Regions from separate parts of the Homo sapiens genome. Here region 2 is linked to region 1. The links come from fine-mapping of genetic effects on gene expression. A gene starts in region 1. The other region holds a variant in brackets. All regions are shown on one strand. Distances are between the middles of the regions. Region 1 holds the start of ACAA1 (acetyl-CoA acyltransferase 1). Region 2 overlaps DLEC1 (DLEC1 cilia and flagella associated protein).

The links. PIP is the estimated chance that this variant, and not a neighbour inherited with it, causes the effect. A credible set is the group of variants that fine-mapping cannot tell apart.
Region 2: its variant is the best candidate, but not a certain one, in a credible set for the expression of ACAA1 in whole blood (INTERVAL, PIP 0.56).

What each region holds. Positions count from the first base shown.
Region 1 is chr3:38,135,597-38,138,500 of GRCh38, forward strand. ACAA1 (acetyl-CoA acyltransferase 1) reads right to left here and starts at 1,531. Exons shown (of 12, transcript NM_001607.4): 1 at 1,269-1,531; 2 at 996-1,089. The coding sequence starts at 1,439. RefSeq lists enhancers at 2,646-2,904, 2,749-2,904.
Region 2 is chr3:38,051,864-38,054,767 of GRCh38, forward strand. The region is part of intron 2 of DLEC1 (DLEC1 cilia and flagella associated protein); the gene reads left to right. It also overlaps the pseudogene PPP2R2DP1. Among named protein-coding and RNA genes, the nearest start is that of DLEC1, 14 kb to the left of the region's middle. RefSeq lists an enhancer at 680-1,524. The variant C/G (reference allele first, on the strand shown) is at 1,700.

The DNA of each region.
Region 1 (2,904 bases):
CAAACATCTCAGTGCAGTAAAGAGCAGTATTGCCGCCAGCATGTCTCACCTGCAGCCATAAGGCGGTTTTCTCCTATCTCAGTAAATAGAATGTATGGTTGGGTTTTACACCCAAGACATTCCATTCCCAGGGACAAGCAGGAGACAGATGCTTTCCTCTTATCTCAACTGCAAAGAGGCCTTCCTCTTTTACTAATACTCCTCAGCACCGACCCTTTACGGGTGTCTGCAAAGAGGCCTTCCTCTTTTACTAATACTCCTCAGCACAGACCCTTTACGGGTGTCGGGCTGGGGGACTGTAAGGTCTTTCCCTTCCCACTAGGCCATATCTCAGACAATCTCAGTGGGGGGAAACCTGGACAATACCCAGGCTTTCTTGGGCAGAGGTCCCTGCGGCCTTTCGCAGTGCACTGTGTACCTGGTTAATCGAGAATGGAGAATGGCGATGACTTTTACCAAGCATACTGCCTGCAAACAAATGGTTAACAAGCCACATCCTGCACAGCCCTAAATCCCTCAAACCTTGATTCAATACAGCACATGTTTCTGTGAGCACAGGGTTGGGGCTAAGGCTACAGATTAACAGCATCTCAAGGCAGAAAAATTTTTCTTAGTACAGATCAAAATGGAGTTTCTTCTGTCTTCCTTTTCTACACAGACACAGTAACAGTCTGATCTCTCTTCCTTTCCCCCACACTGCCGCACTCCCCTTGCCGAGATAGTGAAAATAGTAATCAATAAATACTGAGGGAACTCGGAGACCGATGCCGGTCACCTGGGCCCACTCTACACTTTGTCTCTGCGTCTTATTTCTTTTCTCAGTCTCTCCTCCCATCTGACGAGAAATACCCACAGGTGTGAAGGGGCAGGACCCCTTCAAAGGTCAAGGCCATGGAGGTTCCCCCAGTGAAAATTCGGGGCGGGGAGGTGAGGAGAGCTCTGGACGAACGGAAGAACGGGGAAGGCCCAGCGCAGGGCCTGAGTGGTTCGCTCACCGACACAGATGTCCCCCAGCTGTTCCGGCCTCAGATTCACGTCCTTGAGAACCGCGGTCATGACTGCCGAGAGAAGCTCGTCGGGGGTGGTGTCCTGCAGCAGAAAGAGCAGCCGCAGTGACCCCCACTCCCCCATGCCCACCCCAGGGAGACAAAGCGACCACAGCTGGGTGCGGAGCTGCCTCCGGCGTCCAGGATAACCAAACATACGAACCGGACCCCAGCCCGCGCCGGCGTCTTCCCACACTCGGCGCCCAGACCCTCGGGCCTCACCTTGAAGCCGCCGCGGCCCGCCCGGCAGATGGCCGTGCGCCGCCCGTGCACCACCACCACGTCCGCGGCCGAGGCCTGCGGGGCACCGCTCAGGCAAGGCGCGGCCTGCGGCATCCAGCCGGAATCGGCCGGACCCCTCAGGTGGCCCAGCACTACCTGCAGCCTCTGCATTGCGCAGGTCAACCCTGCAGACCAGCCACCAGTCCGGGAACTGACCGCGGAGTTAACAGACAGCCGTCCGCACACGCGCAGAACCACATCTCAGCCTCCAAGGCCTCAACTCCGCCCACAGCTCTGCGAACAGACGCGAGCGACCCTCCAAAAGTCCCGTCCACCTCCAGCCTCAGCCAACCACAAGGAGAGTCGGCCTGGGAACCCGCCCCTCCCCGCCACCGCCTACCAAGCCCTCTATAGGAGGGCCCACAGGCACCGCCCAGCCGAGCTTTCCACTCAATGCCCCGCCTACCTTGGCCTACCGCAGCCAACCAGAAGGTGTATCTTTACGAATCCCCGCCCAGAAATGCAGACCGGAAGTCTTTCCACCTTTTGTAGCCAAACCCGAGACCTGACCCCCAAATCCCTGTCTCCTGCCCGCAGCCAAACGGAAGGCTGGGCAGCCAGGACCGCTTACTGCTTGGGGGCTGGAGATGGAAGCCGAGGCTCTAATTCCTCTACCCACTTCCTAGGAGGCTCTGCTATCCCTCCGGTCCCAGTACCCGAGCTGGGGGACCTAAATACTTCCGAGACGCCCGAGTCCTGCTCCGACGTGGTTGGGCTTTCCCATTCTTTCGAGAAGACAGGGAATTTGGGCTTCCGGGCTGGCCGGGAGAACAGATTTTACAGACATGCGGGGTGTGACAAGCTCTCTAACTGGAGAATGAACATTTCACACTTTTACCAGTTTTACACCCAATTGGAATGATTTTATTAGTGCCCATTTCCCGTGCTAGGCTGGGGTCTCCACCAAGGCAGAGAGGTACCATGTATCCGGGGAGCCTGCGACACCCTTGACACTTAGTAGATGATCAATAAGTACTTGTCGAATGAGTAAATGAATGAACCAGGGCTCCCCAGGTCAGGACTGTGTCCCTAAACCTAAAGGGCAAGGCCACGTGCCCCCTTGACTCCCAATAGCAGGGCCATGTCTTCACCTGAGACCCTGGAGAGTAGTGCTGGGCTTTCCACAGACACCAAAGGACAGGGTGCCTTGTGCTCCCCAACCTAGTGTCATGACGTCCCCAACCATTTCGAGGGCAGGGCCACGGCATGCCTCAGGCTCCAGAAGGCAGCTGTCCGTTTCCCACTCCCACCTCGGGGAGCACAGCAGGGGTCTTCCCATACCCCTACTGGCAGGATTGCGTGTTCCCCAGAGACAGTGGAGGGCAGAGCTGGTGCCTTCCCACTTGTCCCCTCCTCGCCATCCTCGAGGGCAGGACCGTATGAACCCCTCAGATTCCTCCGTGGAAGAACTGTGGCTCCACCAGATCCCAAAAAGCAAGGCCCGTTTCCTACAACCCCCGAAGGAGGGTCGTCCTCACTCCGCCGCCAACCTACTAGCACCATCACCAGACCCTCGAGGGCGGTGCCGTGGACCTCTCCAGATCTCAAAAGGCAGATTCCTACTTCTTACGCCCCC
Region 2 (2,904 bases), 84 kb before region 1:
AGTTATAACTTGAATGATGAAGATGGATGACTTCAAGATTCATTTAGAATTACAGCACTATCAATGACCTGAGGATTAATTTATGACACTTAGAAATCACACATAGACATTTTGACGTGGTAGACATCAAACCTGCTAACCTGGAGCAGCTGACAGAAGTCATTGTGGCAGCCAAGTTCCACTCATACCAGTGCAATGTGCTTGTCTACAGTAGTAGCAAAGGAACCATTGACTAAGCAGCATGGGCTCCTCGACCCTGTGCAACAGACACTCCAAGTTTTTTGAAGAGCCTCAAGATCCCAGCAGTAGGTCCTTCTTCTCAGAAATAATTTCATCCATACCCAATGTAAAATGTAGCCATAGTGGGCAGTACCTGATGACCAGAGACTCCCTGTTGGTGAAGGTGTGGGACCTCAACATAGAGAGCAGGCTGGGACCACACCGGGACCACGAGTACCTGCACAGCAAGCTCTGCTTTCTCTATGAGAATGACTGCATCTTTGATAGCTTTGAATGTTGCTGGAATGGTTCGGATAGGTGCATAGTTGAACCACAAATAAGCAAGGGAAATCTCCCAACAGCCAGAAACGAAGAGGGAGCTGAAACCAGAACCGTAGCCTCTAAAGACGTTTATTGCGAGAGAAGCCCCACACCCCTGGCTGGCCTTGGGTGCATCAGCCAATAGCAGGAACCGCTGCCTCCTGTGAACAGCAAGTTGTGGCGCAGAGCTGAAGCCTTGGACCATGAGGTGTGGAGTTGGAACTGCGCCCTCAAAGATGATGAGGTCTCCGTCCACTGGAGTCCAGAGGGAAGTTTATCTGAGATCTTGCATTGGGGTGGCCAAAGCTCCCCTGAGATGTGTAAGCATAGCTTCCCATTACAAGGGTTTGAAGTCCCTCTCTCTCCCTCCCCCTCCGCCTCCTCCTCCCCCTCTCCCTCTCACTGGTCTCCCTCTGATGCCACCAAAGTTGTGAAAGCCGAGGCTGGACTGTACTGCCGCCATCTCGGCTCACTGCAACCTCCCTGCCTGATTCTCCTGCCTCAGCCTGCCGAGTGCCTGAGATTGCAGGGGCGCGCCGCCACGCCTGACTGGTTTTCGTATTTTTTTGGTGGAGACGGGGTTTCGCTGTGTTGGCCGGGCTGGTCTCCAGCTCCTAACCGCGAGTGATCTGCCAGCCTCGGCCTCTCGAGGTGCCGGGATTGTAGACGGAGTCTCGTTCACTCAGTGCTCAATGTTGCCCAGGCTGGAGTGCAGTGGCGTGATCTCGGCTCGCTACAACCTCCACCTCCCAGCCGCCTGCCTTGGCCTCCCAAAGTGCCGAGATTGCAGCCTCTGCCCAGCGGCCACCCCATCTGGGAAGTGAGGAGCGTCTCTGCCTGGCCGCCCATCGTCTGGGATGTGAGGAGCCCCTCTGCCCGGCCGCCCAGTCTGGGAAGTGAGGAGCGCCTCTTCCCGGCCGCCATCCCATCTAGGAAGTGAGGAGCGTCTCTGCCCGGCCGCCCATTGTCTGAGATGTGGGGAGTGCCTCTGCCCCGCCGCTCCGTCTGGGATGTGAGGAGCGCCTCTGCCCGGCCGCGACCCCGTCTGGGAGGTGAGGAGCATCTCTGCCCAGCCGCCCTGTCTGAGAAGTGAGGAGCCCCTCCGCCCGGCAGCCGCCCCGTCTGGGAAGTGAGGAGCGTCTCCACCCGGCAGCTGCCC[C/G]GTCCGGGAGGTGGGGGGCAGCCCCCGCCCGGCCAGCCGCCCCATCCGGGAGGTGGGGGGCGCCTCTGCCCGGCCGCCCCTTCTGGGAAGTGAGGAGCCCCTCTGCCCAGCGGCCACCCCGTCTGGGAGGTGTACCCAACAGCTCATTGAGAACGGGCCATGATGACGATGGCGGTTTTGTTGAATGGAAAAGGGGGAAATGTGGGGAAAAGATAGAGAAATCAGATTGTTGCTGTGTCTGTGTAGAAAGAAGTAGACATAGGAGACTCCATTTTGTTCTGTACTAAGAAAAATTCTTCTGCCTTGGGATGGTGTTAATCTATAACCTTACCCCCAACCCCGTGCTCTCTGAAACATGTGCTGTTTCCACTCAGGGTTAAATGGATTAAGGGCGGTGCAAGATGTGCTTTGTTAAACAGATGCTTGAAGGCAGCATGCTCCTTAAGAGTCATCACCACTCCCTAATCTCAAGTACCCAGGGACACAAACACTGCGGAAGGCCGCAGGGTCCTCTGCCTAGGAAAACCAGAGACCCTTGTTCACTTGTTTATCTGCTGACCTTCCCTCCACTATTGTCCTATGACCCTGCCAAATCCCCCTCTCCGAGAAACACCCAAGAATGATCAATAAATACTAAAAAAAAAAACAAAACAAAAAAACAAACAAACAAACAAAAACAAAAACAAGGGTTTGAAGTTTGTGTTGGTGGCAGCTGCGTGATCTGGAAAAGCTCACACTGAGGAGCTCTCCTGCCTCCATGAGGGCAGCGTGCAGGCGCCTGGAGGCACTGACGTTTTTCTGGGTCTGACTTCTACTCTGTTTACAGACTAATCTGCTAGCCTACAGTGTTTCACAGATGTTGACTGAAGACATGAGGTTCCTGGGTCCTTGGAGCACAGCAAGCAGCATGAGCCTCTTGCTGGCACAGGTTTCCCAGGGGGTGACACAAGGGGCCCAGGCAGATGCTATGCAAGCAGTGGGGCTGATGTCATGGCCGATGCATGCTGAGGTTGGAGAACTCACTGCTTTTTCAGTGGACAGTCAACAAACCTGCACTTTGACTAGAAGAAACATGACCTCATTCCTCTAGACCACTTGCTGTAAGCACAGCCCTGAGAAGTGGCCCAGGTTAAAAGAATGGTGTTCTTTGCAAACTTAGTGAGAACATGCATGGTGGGTGGCTGCTCCCAGCACACCCAGGTCTC